Linked DNA regions of Homo sapiens: region 2 is linked to region 1. Evidence: fine-mapped expression QTL. A gene starts in region 1. The other region holds a variant in brackets. All regions are shown on one strand. Distances are between the middles of the regions.

Region 1 (8,326 bases):
GATTTGAGATGTAGAAGCCATTTTTTATTAAATAAAATGCTTATTTTAGGCTCCGTCCCCATTGTGGCTCTGGTCTCGAGGCCAGTGCTTGAGTGTGCTCTGAGCCTTCTGTGGGTCTTGGGCCCCAGGAGCCCTCAGTGCCTGGCAGGAAATCAGCATGGGGATTGGCCCCAAGGACAAGATCTCCTTACTCTGTCCTCCAGGCCCTCCGGGTGGCAGTGGACAGAGGTCAGGACCCCTCGGCATCCCCGCCTCCTCATAGCACCTGCACCGGCCACTGCCTGGTGGTGCCAGCCAGCACCTGGCTCTGTCCACCTACCACTTCCTCTGGTCCACCTGGCCTCAGCCACATAGCAAGTCCACCCTCTCAGCCATCCCTCCACCTGTGGGTCTCACCATCCAGCACTCTTTTCCAGGTCTTTGAAGGCAGGAGTGATTTGGGTAGGTTTTAAGTCAGTGGGGAAAAGCTCAGAAAGAGTGGCCTGGAAAAGAGCACACAGGTAGGTGGGGCTGGTCTTGGTGCAGCCCTTGGCAAAGGGCAGTGGGCACAAAAGGGTGAGAGCTGGACTGGAGGCTGGGCCCCTCCCCTCACCTCTGGTGGTTTGCACAGCTTCCCGGGACCCTTGAGCTGCCTACCCTGGCCATTTGGGAAAATTCAAAGGCTGTGCAGCTTCCTTTCCATGCCCTTTCTTTCCTTTTTTTGAGACAGAGTCTCGCTCTGTCACCAGACTAGAGTGCAGTTGGTGCGATCTCGGCACACTGCAACCTCTGCCTCCCGAGTTCAAGTGGTTCTCCTGTCTCAGCCTCCCGAGTAGCTGGGATTACAGGCACACACCACCACGCCCAGCTAATTTTTGTATTTTTAGTACAGACGGGTGTCACCACGTTGGCCAGAATGGTCTTGATGTCCTGACCCTGTGATCCGCCCACGTCGGCCTTCCAAAGTGCTGGGATTACAGGCGTGAGCCACCGTGCCCAGCCCCGTGCCTGTCCTTTCTTAGGAAAAGGCTTTCTTAGGAATGCCCTCCCAGGCAGCCTTGGGCCTCAGCTTCTGACCAAACACACCAGACCTGGTACTACCCAGTCCCGGTGGCCAGGTGCAAGAGTGTAAGGACCATTGTTTTTGGCTCTGCCCAGGGCCACAGCTCTGGGATCACACACTCCCAAGCTTGGGGACTATTCTTGGTCCCTGTTGTACAGGCCCAGGTGGGGTACAGGTCAGGCCTGCTGAGGACCTCTGCACCGTGGGGCCCCTCTCCCTGTAACTCATCCCACCGGCTGGTTCCACAGCAGCTCCCAGGAAGCTGCCACACATTCCAGCAGCTGCCCTAAGCCACTCTGAGCCTGCATTCTTGGGGTTCTCCCACTGCTCCATGATGGTAGCCTGGCCAGACCTAGGAGACTCCCTGCCACTGGATGTGGCCCAGACATTTCTGGGCAGGGCCCCCAAGTCCAGTTTGGGGCAGATACCAAGTCTCCCTTCCGGCTGGGCTTAGAGCTCTTCCCTGCAGCATGCCCCCTTCATCAGCTGCTCTCTTCTGCTTCTAGCTTTATGTCAAATGTCAAAAATGTGTTAATTCAAAGTGCCTAGAACAAGGCTAAAAACAGTGAGCTCTCAGTGGCTATGTTAGATGGCTCTAGACACCCCCATTCCGAGGTGCCTGGCAGGGGCCAGCACTGACTCCCAGGCCACACAGCCCCTGGAGGAGGAAGGTTACCCAGAGTGCCCCCAGCAGGGGCTGGCACAGGTGCTGGTTGTGAGCACCATTCTGGGCAGGCTGCCAGGCCAGCAGGGTGGGTACAGGCTCTGTAGGGAGCTGCGCTGGGACTGGCAGAGGAGCCAGGACGAGGGGCTAGAGCCAAGCTGTGGTACTCCAGGCAACCAGCTGCCAGCACCTCCTCCCATGGCAACCCTACTGTTGACCGGCGTGTCCTGCATTCACCCCTGTTCCTGCCCCACCCACCATTGGAAAGGGCCTGGTCGGGGATTCTACAGACCTCTGTGGCCACTTGATGGGGCTTGGGACTAGGCAAGCCCTGAGAGGGCAGTGGAAAACCTCACCCTGTGCTGTGTGGGGCTTGGCCCTTTCTGGGAGAAGCCAGCGGCCTGGCTGCTCACCCCCAGCACTTCCCACACCGCAGGACCCCCACTCACCAGCCTGTGTTGAGGGCGCTTCACCCCGCATCTTCTGCTGGGGTCTGCCGCTGCCCCCGCCCCTGTCCCATCCCGGGCCCCAGGGCCCCATGACGCAGCAGCTCTTCTGACCGCAGATCCCGCCTTTCTGGGCTGTAGTAAGTGGTGGCTGTGTCTCCCACCTGGTGGGAAGGTGGCAGGGAGGATGGGGAAAAGAGCCCCAGCCTCCAGCCCTGGGAGGAGGTCTCCACAGGAGTCCTTGGGAGGGCGGGGCTGGTGGGTGATGAATGGGGCTGCTGGACACGGAAGATGGCTGGACAGAGAACAGGACACAGGTGGGAGAGAGTTCAAACCATTTACTAAGCAGATTCTTAGCCTTCCCACTCCCGCCCTCTCTCAAGCTCCGGTGCCCACAAGCCTTGCCTGGGGAGATGCTGGAGTGAGACCGGGAGGTCCAGGCCAAGTCACTGGTCCCTGGGCTCGGGCCCTGCCGATGGAGTAAAGACCAGCTGTACACATCTTCCGGTGGGGGCCCTGGGCTCTGCATCCGCCCCTCCGAAGTCAGCAGGAGCCTCTGGGAAGTAAGGCAGCAGCCAAGACCCCCAGCGTCTTGGAGGGGAAGCGAAATCCTCAGTCTGACACCCGCTCTGCCTATGGAAACAGCGCCGCGCACAGAAAAGGAAACTTCATTCCGTCTGTTAAGGGCAGGGCCGGGCTAGTGGCAGGAGAAGGTCAGCTGCGGGCGCAGGCAGGAGCGGATCCAGGAGCCGCGTCGGGGCGCAGAGCCGGACGTTCCGAGGAGCCTGCGCGCCGCGCTACCCGGCGGAAGCCGCGGTCCATGCGGGGCTCCCCAGGCTTATCCAACGCCTCGCAGGCGTGGCTGGCAGGAGGGGCCCGGCCGTGCCCAGCGCCCTCAGACGTAGTTCTTCTTGTCGTAGTCGCCGGTGGCCGTGGGCCGCCGCGGCGCTGAGTACTTCACGGGGAAGCTGAGGTCGGGACGGCCGGTGCAGACCCAGGCGCCGCAGCACAAGAGGCAGCCGCCTACCATGAGCAGCGCGGTGGCCGCCCAGCCGATGTACAGCGCTGCGCCCAGCTCGTACTTCTGCGACACGGGCACAGACGGGTCGTAAAACTCGCGGACGACAATGTTGGCGAACCAGCAGAGTGGCACGAGCGCCAGCAGCCCGCAAAACAGGTAGAGCACGCCTCCCGTGAGGGCCACACGCGCCTTGGCCGGGCCCGGGGCCACGCAGGTGGTGCACTGCGCGCCCGCCAGGGTCACGAAGAGCGCAACGAACGCCAGCAGCACGGCGCTCACGGTGAGCGCCCGCGCCGCCTGCACCTCGGTGCTCAGAGCCAGCACCGAGTCGTACACTTTGCACTGCATGTGCCCGGTGCTCTGCACCACGCACGACATCCACAGCCCCTTCCAGGTGGTCTGCGCCGTCACGATGTTGTGGTCCAGGAAGGCGGTCACCTGCCACATGGGCAGCCCGCACGCCAGGATCAGACCCCCCCAGCCCACCAGGCACAGCACCAGGCCCAGGATCTCCAACGCTGCGGACCCCATGGCTAGAGGCGAGACGCGCACCCGAAGGCCCGCAGAACCCCCAAGGCCGTGCTGCGCGGCGCCCTGGGCGGGCCCTGGTGCCTTTGCGCCCGCGCTCCCGGCTCTTGGCCCCAGTCCGTTTGCCCCGCGGGTCTGTCGCACCTCCTGGGTCTGCCAGCTCCTGCCGGGGGGTACCCTCTTTGAAGGTTCGGGGGCGGATTCTGTCCCCCGGGCCCGGCCCCCCGGCCCGAAGCAGCCAATCCGTGCGCGGGTCATCGTGCCGCAGCCAATCACAGAGCCTCTGGCAGCTGAAGTTAGGGAAACAACGGCTCTTGAGGGGTAGCTGAGGGCGCGGGACCGCTCCCCGCCCGGCAGCCGCCCCCAGCCCCACCCGCCGTTGTCCTAGTCGCGGCCGAGCGCATTCTGGGCTGGCCTAGGGCGCGCTTCTTGGGCCGCCTCCCTGCGCGTCCCGGCCCCGTCACTTCAGAAGGCGCTCGACCCCCAGTCTGCACCACCCAGTCCACTCCCACATCCCCGACTGAGCCGGGTGGTCTCTTCCACTCGAGCCAGCTCCACTTCCCTGACCAAGGTTTGCAGAAGCCCCCCACCCCGTCACCGCCGTAGAGGCCCTCGTAGGGGGGCTCTCCAGAAAGCCCGCCCCGGGGTCCAAGCCCCACCCAGGCCCTTTCTCGCACTCTCACTCTCCAGCCCCGCTCTGAGTCCCAGCACTGTCTCTCTCATCCCATGGCAAACAGAGAGGCCAGGCAGGCGTGTGGAGGTCAGGCCCAGGGCCCCAGCCTCACCCCCCATGCCACTCACTGCCTCTCTGGAGCCTGAGTCTCTGGCAAAAAGCGGTGGCACAGGGGCTTTCCCCCTGCCTGGCGACCCCCACTCTCCCAAGCCGCAGGGGCTTCCCAGACCTCTCAATCTTCACAGGGGCTGCTCCTCTTCCTGCGGTACTGCCCGCACCCCATCCTTGGGGGCCCAGTTCAGGTGACACCACTTCAGGAAGTTCCCAGTGACCCAGCACACTGGGTGTAGCACCCAGGGGCAGTGGTGGCCCCAGGCCTAGCAGCCTGCTCTGGCCTTCAGACAGGAGAGACAAAGGGACACGGAGGGGCTGTGCCCTGCCCTCCCACCAGTGGCGATGGTGTCCCTGGCACCCCAGCCCCCAGGCCACCCTCCGGAAGCCAACTTGGAGTTTCCTGGCCAGGAGGAAGAGCCCCCATCCTTGCTGGAGGAGGGAGGCGCGGGATTTCCGGGCATTCTTCTGCACAATGGCCCAGCCATTTCTCGAAAGGTCCACTGGTGTGGACACTCCGGGCCCCCTGAGGCTCAGGTGGGGGCACGCGGCTCCAAAACCCACAGCCCCATGGGGGCACCAGCCCCTTTCTAGTAGTTCTTTCCCCAGTCTCTCTCGGCCCCTTTGTTTCCAGTAAAGTTTGAACTCCAGGCCCTGGACTGAGGCCACTGGGTGCCCAGTTCTTTTATCTGGTCTGTGCTCAGTTCCATTGGACAGGGCCCTCCATAGAAAAAGTATGGCACTGAGGCTGGTCACAGATGTGGGAGGTTTGATGACTTTCTCCCTCCTGGGGCCCGGTTCCCTTCTCCCCCTTCAGATGGCTCTGAGATGGTAAATGAGATAAGGCCAGCGTCTGGCTCACCTAGTGTGGGGAGGTTCTGAAGGCAAGTGTGCCCAGCCCTGAGGCTGGAAGGAAATCATACCCTCTTTGCTCAGCCCCACGTGGCCTCTCCCCACCAGGTATGGCTCTGAGGACCACTGCCTTCTCCCAGCTATCACTTTAGTCACTGCCTTCCTCCTGCTGCAGACCCATGGGCCATGCCCCTTCCTCTACAGACCCTCCTGGACATCTCCTCCTCTGTGTACTCCAGGGGTACAGCTGACCCACCCACCCTCTCACTCTTACTACCCCCTAACCCAAGCCCAGGGAACTTCCCCAGATCCCCCTACTCCCAGCCCTTCCATGCCACCATCTTCCTGGGATGACTGCTGCGGCCTCCTCAGGTCATCAGGGACCTGCCCTTGCCCAGCTAGGCCACCCACCCCACCAGGCCCCTCTCCTGGGCCTCACCCTACCTAAGACCCTCCATGGCTCACATTGCCCATGGACGAAGAGCCGACTCCCAGAGCAGCTGGATTGATGTGTACCTGCATGCGCTAGGACTGGCCAGTCCAGCCACCAGTCTTGGTGCGGCCCTGAGCACACACTCTGCCCCAGGAGACTTACCTGCCTATGGGCCTCACATGGGCCGTCTCTTACCTTGGCCTCTTCTGCCCGCAGCGTGTATCTGTCAGGTTGGGTCCTGCTCATCTTCTAAGATGTGTTGCCGAGGTCATTTCCAGGAACACCTTGCTGCACCGTCCCCCAGCATTGCTTTTAGAAGCTTGAGCTGGACCTGTCCTTTTGCTTGCCGACTTTCCCACCTAGTATCCAGGAATAACCTCCACAGGGTGGCTGTCTTCATGCGTCTGTCCTGCACAGGAGGCTGCCTGTTGCCCTCTAGCCAGCTTGGAGCTGCAGCCAGCCCAAGGCTCTCCCTTCTCACCTGGCTGCCTGTTTTTCTTCTCTCCTAGCTGTCACCCTAGGGTGGCCCCAGCAAGCTCATGTTTCTTTGGCGGCAGCCTCACAGCATCTCAGGGACGTGGCAGAGGAGTCTCAGGCTTCACCTTTCACAATCTGGTTTCTACCCTGACCCCACTATGTTGGTCGAGGCCCCAGGCTGCAGTGGAACAATGCCAATGCAGAGAGGCCCAGAGAGGGCCGCAGGGGCTGACGCCACCCCAGACAAACCCACCTCAGATGGAGGCTGGCCTCTGAGTAGCCCAGGCCAGACTCCGGAGGGGCATGAGGGTGCACCCACCTTTCCTGCCACTCATGGAGGGTCTGCTCACCTACTTCGTGGCAAGCACTGTCTCTAGGCAGAGCACACAGCACAAGAAGCTCCTGCCCAGAAGGAGCTGACAGGAACCTATCAACCAAGAACTGGGCAGGAAAGACAGTGGTGAAGGCCTCTCTGAAGAGGTGACATTTCACAGGGATCCGGGGAAGAAGTTCCAGGCAGAGCAGAAGCAATAGCCAGTGCAAGATCCCAGAGGTGGGAAGGGGCTCGGCGTCCAAGGGGCAGAAGCGGCCTTGTGTCCACAGTGCCACAGTGGTCCAGGGCCTGCAGGTGGAGATCGGAGGTGTCCTGGTTAGGCAGGGACACAAACCCCTGATCTCTGGTAAAGGGCCCTTGGGGCAGAGCACTGGCCAAGGCCACCTGCTCACCCCCAGCCATTGTTCTGCTTTCCCAGGGGAAGAATGGCAGGATCTCATTAATTGTGTGTGAGAAGAGCCTGAGTCTGCAGAAAAGCCAAGTTTATCTTGAGCAGCTGCTGGCTGACCCTGCCCCAGGGTAATCCCGTGACCTTCCAAGGATAAGCTAAATTTAGGCTCAAGATTCCTGGGGATTTGGGTTTGGGAAACTCCTAGTTAACAGATTTGATTTCAGGGGAAGTGAAGAACAGCGTTTCTTCTATCTTTCAGTTTTGAAACAGTTAAGGATGTGTCCTTCTATTTCCGCAAATGTTTGCAGAGCCTCCAAGCACAGTGTGGCCTGGTGCTCTTTCTTGACACAAGCCAGTACTCCTGCAGGCCGAGAGCAGCAGCTGGGGTCCTCCTGCATCCCTGACCACTGCACCAGGTGCCCGAGGCACCCTGTGTGGGGCCCCTGGGCGGCTGTGACGATGTGAGCAGCATCCAGAGTGGACAGTGCCAGACTCGGCGGTTTTGCGGGCATTGTTGTTACTCTTTGTGGTTAAACACAGGCATGGAGTCAGATTCGCTCCCGCAAGCAAGAAACTTTCTGGACTAGTGAGGTGGCCTCTCTGCCTTAGTTCCTCACTGGTAACGAAGCCCCCCAATGGTGGAGGCTGCGAGGCTGCAGGGGAGGCCGATGCCAGTCCCGGTTCTCTTCTGCCTTTCCTGAGTGCCATCCACCCAGGCTCCCAGGGCCTTCACAGCTCATCCAACCTCAGCCGCACCCCTCAGGGTAGTCATCGCTGGCTGTTAGTCAGAATTGGAGGTCACTGTGGCTTTAACTTCCCCAGCGGGTGAGGGAGTGGGGGGCAGGGAGCTCTGGTGTGATCCACGAAGGGTCAAGGGTTCTATAGAATGGCAAGCCAGGCCAAGCGCAGTGGCTCACGCCTGTAATTCCATTCAGGAGGCCGAGGTGGGCGGATCACTTGAGGTCAGGAGTTTGAGACCAGCCTGTCCAACACGGTGAAACCCCGTCTCTACTAAAAATACTAAAATTAGCTGGGCGTGGTGGCACGCACCTGTAATCCGTTACTCGGGTAGCTGAGGTGGGAGAATCCCTTGAACCTGGGAGGCAGAGGTTGCAGTGAGCCGAGATCATGCCATTGCACTCCATCCTGGGCAACACAGCAAGACTCCATCTCAAAAAAAAAAAAAAGTCCACCAAAGTACATCATAAACCAAATTTCGTAAAACTGGTGCTAAAGAGAAAGTCTTAAAAGCATGGAGAGGAAAGGCCGGGCGCAGTGGCTCAGGCCTGTAATCCCAGCACTTTGGGAGGCCGAGGCGGGCGGATCACCTCAGGTCAGGAGTTCGAGACCAGCC
Region 2 (8,326 bases), 58 kb after region 1:
TGTGTGACAGATGAGACCCTGTCTCTTAAAAAAAAAAAAAAACCAAAACCAAAAACAAAAAACCACCTCTCTAGATTATGTTGCTCCTCTGCTCCACACCATGCTGTGGCTTCTGTTCACAGTCAAAGGTCCCAAAGTGGCCATGGCCTGTGCTGCCTGCTGCCGCTCTCCACACCCTGGCCGCTCGGTCCCCAGGAGACCAGGCATGCTCCTGCCACAGGGCCTTTGCACTGGGTGCTCTCTGGGTCTGGAACAGGCCCCACACCCACTCACTTCCCCCAAGTCTGCTCAGATGCCACTTCCACACTTCCTAACAAAAGGAAGCTGTTGGTGAGCAGATGCTCAGTAACTTATGTGTGGCCAGAAGGAGCGAGTGGCTCCAGCCTGCGCGTGGAAAGCTGGCTCTCCTGGGTCACTGCTCTCACTGAGCCTCGGGTTTCTGCTGCCCAGAGGACTGCGTGGCTCTTTCTTGTACCTGGCAGTTCTGACACTGCTGGAATTGGGAAGAAAAGGGACCCTGAGACTAGGTCACTCCCTCCTGGGGTCTCAAGGGGCCCTGTCCCTGGGGCTGGAGGCTGAGCTTCCTCCTCCTTGTCCCCACCCTGGGGATGGCCTGTGTTCTGTCTTCCTTGTGCTCACCACTGGCGCCTGTTGGCTGAGGCAAGAGGGCCTCCAGCTGGGTTCTTCCTGTCCTCTAGTTGGTGCCTGAAGGCCCCAGTTGGGTGGGGTCTCTCTTTACCCTCTGGTCATATAGCAAACTGTGGCTGGTGTGTGGTGAGTCAGCCCTGTGTGCAGGCAGGGTCCCATTTCCCTGTGTGCAGGCCACAGTCTGTCCCAGTGCCTGCAAGGCCTCTGCCCCAGCTGGCCTGGACCCCCCTTGCCAGACTCTGCTCTTTGTGGGGCTCTGCCCACATCTACTGCCCAGTAGGACGCCCAGTCTCCACTGCTCTTTGGAGGTAAAAGAGGGCCTGGCACACTGGCACGGGGTACTTTCCCAAAGGTCAAAGATGTGTTGAGTGAACGAAGGTAGAGAGTTCATTTCTGAGACCTTTGCTGGCCTAATTCAGCTCAGTGGGGTGAAGTTATTACTGTTGAGATGCTTGCTGTTTTGATTGTCTTTAGAGAGCATTCTTAATATTTGGATGGTTTAAAATACCAAGGAGAAAAAAGGGAGGAGAGGCTTCTTTTTTAAAAATACCAACTTCATTATGAAAACACACAAATGTACACACAAATAGAATAATATAATGACACCCCTCCCACCACCACACGGCCTGTTTCAGTCTGTGTCCACAGCGAGGCTTCTGAAGGAAAGGCTGTGGAGGGGGTGAGCTGGTGGAGCCCATGTTCTCCCGGGCCTGGCCGGGATGTGCTTGCCGCTGTCACAGCTCCCCCATCTCCACCCGTCACATGACATCGAATGAGGCCGGCCTGGCTCTAGCCACTGCACAGGTGTCCCGTGGTCATTTCCTTCCTGTGCTGCTGAGGCACACAGTCACCCGTTTGCAAACTCTGAGGTGTTTTCCCTTTTCCCATTTCCTGTCACTGTTTTGAAGCTGTGAGAGGAAGAGAGAGACCTCGATCTGATAACCATTCATTTACTATCAAAGTTGGGGTCACATCCTTATAAGAACGTGTGGCTTGAGGTCATGAATAGCAGTAATGCGAGGGAAGCTAAGATTCTGGCAGGATGCAAATGATCTGGGAGTTTTCATTTTGTCGTTATGTATGGGCTGTTTTCTGCTGCATTGTTAACTATTGGAAAAGATTTTCCATGGATTATTATATGGATTATAGAGGAAAATGCAAATCTCCAACCTCTATACATTTAATCACTTAAATGAAATGTCAAGTTTTCTTGTTAAGAATTATGGTGCTGACTGGAAGAACAACATGGCTTTAAATATGACTTATTAGTTTCTTTCCACTTCTAAAGTTCAAAATAAAACATCATAGGTGGCAAAACAAATCAAGGTAAAATACGTTTTGAAAAGTCATAACTTTACTCAACAACAAAAAATAAGAAATAGACAGAGGACTTGAATAGACATTTCTCCAAAGAAGACATACAAGTGGCCAAGAAGTACATGAAAAGATGCCCAACATCACTGGTTATTAGGGAAATGCAAATCACAGGCATTAGGATGGCTATTATCAAAAAAAGCCAAGCAAAACCAACAACAGAAAATAAAAGCATTGGCAAGGATGTAAAGAACGTGAAGATGTGGAGAAATTGAACGTTGGTTTACTGTTGGTGGGAATGTAAAATGGTGCTGCCACCGTGGAAAAGTTTGGTATTTCCTCAAAAAGTGAATCAGAGGCCAGGCGCGGTGGCTCACGCCTGTAATCCCAGCACTTTGGGAGGCCGAGGTGGGCAGATCACGAGGTCCGGAGATCAAGACCATCCTGGCTAACACGGTGAAACCCCATTTCTACTAAAAATAAAAAAATTAGCTGGGCGTGGTGGTGGGCGCCTGTAGTCCCAGCTACTCGGGAGGCTGAGGCAGGAGAATGGCGTGAACCCGGGAGGTGGAGTTTGCAGTGAGCCGAGATAGCGCCACTGCAGTCCAGCCTGGGCTAAAGAGCAAGACTCCGTCTCAAAAAAAAAAAAAAAAAAAGTGAATCAGAATTACCGTGTGGTCTAGGAATTCCACGCCCAGAATAGGCATGCACTGAAAAGAATTGAAAGCAGGGACTCAAGACACTTGTGCATCGATGTTCACAGCAGCATCATTCACGCTAGCTAAAAGGTAGAAACAATTCAAACATGCACCGACAGATAAATGGATAAGCAATGTGGTCTACAGACATGGACAATGGAATATTATCCAGCCTTAAAGAAGGAACTCTGGCCGGTCACGGTGGCTCATGTGTGTAATCCCAGCACTTTGGGAGGCCGAGGCGGGTGGATCACGAGGTCAGGAGTTCAAGACCAGCCTGGCCAAGATGGTGAAACCCTGTCTCTACTAAAAATACAAAAATTAGCTGGGTGTGGTGGCAGGTGCCTGTAATCCCAGCTACTCAGGAGGCTGAGGCAGAGAATTGCTTGAACCCAGGAGGCAGAGGTTGCAGCAAGCCAAGATCATGCTACTGCACTCCAGCCTGGGTGACAGAGCAAGATTCTGTCTCAAAAAAAAAAAAAGAAGAAGGAATTCTGACACATGTTACTACATGGATGAATGTTGAAGCCATGCCCGGTGAAATAAGCCAGTCACAAAAAGACAAATATTGTCTGATTTCACTTATATGAGGTATCTCTTATATAAGGTAATCAAATTCATAGAGACAGAAATTAGAATAGTGGTTACCAGAGGGTGGGGAAGCAGGGAATGGGAAGTTATTATTGAATTAGTATAGACTTACAGTTTGGGATGACAACAAAGTTCTGGAGATGGATGATACTGATGGTTGTACAACATTGTGAATGTGCTTACTGCCACAGAACTGTACAATTAAAATGATTAAAATGATCCTTTTGGCCAGGCGCGGTGGCTCATGCCTGTAATCCCAGAACTTTAGGAGGCCGAGGCAGATGGATCGCGAGGTCAAGAGATCAAGACCAGCCTGGCCAACATGGTGAACCCCATCTCTACTAAACATACAAAAATTAGCTGGGCATGGTGGCACGTGCCTGTAATCCCCGCTACTCGGGGGCTGAGGCAGGAAAATCGCTTGAACCAGGGAGTCGGAGGTTGCGGTGAGCCGAGATGGCACCACTGCACTCCAGCCTGGTGACAGAGTGAGACTCCGTCTCAAAAAAAAGGATCCTTTTGTGCTGTGTATATTTTACCACAATTAAAAATGCAGGAGTTAGTAAAGGAATGGAACAAGATCA[T/C]GTGAACGTGAGTTATGAGAATACTGGAATGGCATCCGGCAAAGCAGACTCAGAACAGGACTGTTCCTAGAGATAGGGAGGACTGTTTTATGCGGATAAAGTGGTCAAGTCATCAAGAAGACATTATGATCCTAAATATGTATGCACCCAATACAGAGCAAAAACTGACAGAACCAAGAGAACAAATAGACAAATGCGCAGTTATAGCTAGAGATTTCCACACTTCTCTCTCAGTAAATGACAGAACAAGGAGGCAGAAAATCAGTTTAAGAATGCAGAATACTGCCTGGGTGCGGTGGCTCACACCTGTAATCCCAGCACTTTGGGAGGCCAAGGTAGGCAGATCACTTGAGGTCAGGAGTTTGAGATCAGCTTGGCCAACATGGCAAAAACCTGTCTCTACCAAAAATACAAAAATTAGCAAGGTGTGGTGGTGCATACCTGTAATCCCGGCTACTTGGTAGGCTAAAGCAGAAGAATTGCTTGAACCCGGGAGGTGGATGTTGTAGTAAGCCGAGATCACGCCATTGCACTCTAGCCTGGGCGACAAGAACAAAACTCCATCATGACAAAAAAAAAAAAACAACAACAACGACAAAAACTAGCCAATTGAGTTGGGCACAGTGGCTCACGACTGTAATCCCAGCACTTTGGGAGGCCGAGGCAGGCAGATCGCTTGAGCTCAGGAGATGAAGACCAGCCTGGGCAACGTGGTGAAACCCTGACTCTACAAAAAATCCAAAAAATTAGCCATGTGTGGTGGTGTACACCTGTGGTCCCAGCTGCTTGGGAGGCTGAGGTGGGAGGATCACTGAAGCCTGGGAGGTCAAGGCTGCAGTGAGCAGAGATCGCGTCACTGCACTCCAGCATGGGTGTCAGAGTGAGACCCTGTCTGAAAAAAAAAAAAGTCAGTTGAATCTAGCAACAAAAAAAAGGATAGGCCATGGACAAGTAGAGTTTATCCCAGTAATGCAACATCAGCTTAACATTTAAAAATCAATATAATCCTCCATATTAACACAAAAAAAGTAGGAAAACACTATCAATAAAGAGCAGAAAACTGATGGTACAACAAGTGGATGAATCTCACAGGACTTATGTTGAATGAAAGAAGCTGGACAAAACAGTATGCACTGTGATTCCTTTTATAGAAAACTCTAGAAAGGACAGATCTCATCTAGAATGATGGAACACAGATGGGTGGTTCCCTGGGTCCTGGTGTGACCAGGAGGAGTCATGAGGGAAGCTTCTGGAGTGATGGGATGTTCTTGGTTTTGACTGTGATGATGGTTACTTACACAGGTATACACATTTGTCTACATGCATTGAGCTGTATACTTTTATTTTTTTTTTTGAGACAGAGTCTCACTCTGTCACCCAGGATGGAGTGCAGTGGCACGTCTTGGCTCACTGCAAGCTCCGCCTCCCGGGTTCACGCCATTCTCCTGCCTGAGGCTCCCAAATAGCTGGGACTACAGGCATGGGCCACCACACCCGGCTAATTTTGTTTTTGTATTTTTAGTAGAGACGGGGTTTCACCATGTTAGCCAGGATGGTCTCGATCTCCTGACCTCATGATCTGCCCACCTCGGCCTCCCAAAGTGCTGGGATTACAGGCGTGAGCCACCATGCCCGGCCTAAGCTGTATACTTAAGATGTGTGCACTCTCTCGTATGCAAGCTGTACATCAATAATATTGATTTTTAAAAATCCTTTAACTGAGGTAAAACACTGATGTACAGTGTAGTTATTCTGCATTTTCTGAAATAACCATAGTTTATATCAGAAAGAATAGGGAGCTACAGAAGATACAGAATAGTGCATATAAGTTGCTACTTTTTATTGATAAATTTTTACATGTTTATGTGGTACATGGAGTAGTTGTTACATTACACATTACAGAATATGTAATGATCAACTGAGAGTATCTGAGGTATCCATCACCTTGAGTGTTTCTTTCTTTTTTCTTTTTTTTTTTTTTTTGAGAGGGAGTCTTGCTCTGTCACCCAGGCTGGAGTGCAGTGGCACGATCTTGGCTCAATGCAAGCTCTGCCTCCCGGGTTCACGCCATTCTCCTGCCTCAGCCTCCCGAGTAGCTGGGACTACAGGCGCCCGCCACCACGCCCGGCTAATTTTTTTTTTTTTTTTTGTATTTTTTAGTAGAGACGGGGTTTCACTGTGTTAACCAGGATGGTGTTGATCTCCTGACCTCGTGATCTGCCTGCCTCGGCCTCCCAAAGTGCTGGGATTACAGGTGTGAGCCACCGTGCCCGGCCTTGAGTATTTATTTCTAAGTGTTTGTAATGAGGTAGGAGGCAGGCGAGACTCAACTCCGGACCAGATTGAGGACTGGCCAAAACTAGGAAGAAGTGCACAAAGGACCTCTCCATAAGACATGCCCACCAGTGCCATGACAGTTTACTATTGCCATAGCAACACCCAAAACTTACCACCCATTTTCTAGCTGTTTCTGAATAACCTGCCCCTTAATTAGCATGGCACTAAAAGTGGGTATAAGATATGACTGCAAAACTGCCCCTAGGCTGCGACCCTCAGCACACTGCCTATGGGGTAGCTCTGCTCTGCAGGGGCAGCCAGCCAGAGCTATAGCACTGCCTCCACCGCAAGAAAGCTGTTTTCTTCCACTACCAGCTTGCTCTTGAATTCCTTCCTGAGGAAGCCAAGAACCTGCCCTGCATCAGTAGCATTTCAAGTCCTCTCTTCTAGCTGCTCTGAAATATGCAATACATTGTTGCCAGCTACAGATACCCTACTACCCTGCTATGGAATGTTAGGGCTTATTTCTTCTACCTAACCATATGTTTGTACCCATTAGCCAACTTCTCTTTATCCTCCTCCCACCCACACATGCTTCCCAGCCTCTGGTATCTATCATTCTATTCTCTCCCTCCATGACATCAACTTTTTAGCTCCCACATATGAGTGAGAACATATGGTAGCTGTCTTTCTGTGCTTGGCCTATTTCACTTAACGTTATGATCATCGGTTCCATCCATGCTGCTGCAAATGACGATTTCATTCATCTTATGGCTGAATAGAATTCCATTATATATATATTTATATATATATATATATATATATATATATATCTATCTCACATTTTCTTTATTTCTTCATCTGTCAGTGGACACAGTTTGATTCCATATCTTTGCTGTTGTGAATAGGAGAGTGCTACCACTGTTAAAGGATCTATTTACATACATGCTTATAAATAAATGCATCCAGGATTTTTGTAAAGATCTATCATTACTTTCACTCTTTTGTAGCTTTTGAATTTTTTCATCATGTGCATCCACTTCCTAAAAACAAAATTTCTTTTTTTAACTTTTCTTTTCTTTTTCTTTTTTTTTGAGGCAGGGTCTCATTCTGTCACCCAGGCTGGATTGCAGTGGTGTGACCTGAGCTCACTGCAACACGTACCTCCTGGGCTCAAACAATCCTCCTACCTCAGCCTCCTGAGTAGCTGAGACTACACACTCATGCCACCACACCCAGCTAATTTTTGTATTTTTTGTAGAGATGGGGTTTTGTTATGTTGCCAAGACTGCTGTCTAACTCCTGGGCACAAGCAATCTGCCTGCCTTGGCCCAAAGTGCTGGGATTACAGGCATGAGCCACCGCACCCAGTTGTGTTTTTTTGTGTTTTGTTTTTGTTTTTGTTTTTGTTTTGAGACAGAGTCTCCCTCTATTGCCCAGGCTGGAGTGCAGTGGTGCTGAAACAGGAAAAGTTCCCGTGTCCCCCTCGCAGGGCAGGCGATGGGGGTGTGGTTCGCTTCTTCAGTGCCCCACTGCTCAAACCGCTAGGGGAGCATACAGATGGGCAGGCTGTGGGGCTCCGGCCCCAGGGCAATGTCTAGGGGTTAATGTTTACAGCCAGGACCCAGTGGGCATGTGCTACTGTTTGCTCTTTTAGTTTTGCTGTCTATAGGTGGCTTTTGTTAACCAGTTCAATTAGACCCTCTAGGCCTGGCATGGTGGCTCATGCCTGTAATCCCAGCACTTTGGGAGGCCGAGGTGGGCAGATCACTTGAGGTCAGAAGTTCAAGACCAGCCTGGCCCAACATGGCGAAACCCCGTCTCTACTTAAAAATACAAAAATTATCCGGGTGTGGTGGCTCACACCTGTAATCCCACCTATTCGGGAGGCTGAGGCATGAGAATCACTTGAACCCCAGAGGCAGAGGTTGCAGTGAGCAGAGATTGCACCACTGCACTCCAGCCTAGGCGACACAGGGAGACACCATCTCAACAAAAAACAAAAAAAAAAAACAAAAACAAAAACAGAAAAAAAGGACCCTGTACCTTGTTGCGAGGACAGAGGACTTCCTGTATCCGGGTTTTTGACTTGGTGTACCGGAAGAATTGGATCACACGTGGGCTTGGAGAATGAGTGCAAGGTTTTGTTGAGTGGAAGTAGCTCTCAGTAGATGGGGGAGCCAGAAGGGAGATGGAGTGGGAAGGTGGCTTTCC

What was found. PIP is the estimated chance that this variant, and not a neighbour inherited with it, causes the effect.
Region 2: its variant is fine-mapped to the expression of CLDN5 in whole blood (TOPMed, PIP above 0.99).

The regions. Positions count from the first base shown.
Region 1 is chr22:19,520,552-19,528,877 of GRCh38, forward strand. CLDN5 (claudin 5) reads right to left here and starts at 3,859. Exons shown (of 1, transcript NM_001363066.2): 1 at 2,476-3,859. The coding sequence starts at 3,704. The coding sequence ends at 3,048. CDC45 (cell division cycle 45) reads left to right here. Exons shown (of 19, transcript NM_003504.5): 19 at 1-57. RefSeq lists an enhancer at 1,542-2,474.
Region 2 is chr22:19,578,630-19,586,955 of GRCh38, forward strand. No RefSeq gene overlaps it. Among named protein-coding and RNA genes, the nearest start is that of LINC00895, 16 kb to the left of the region's middle. The variant T/C (reference allele first, on the strand shown) is at 3,836.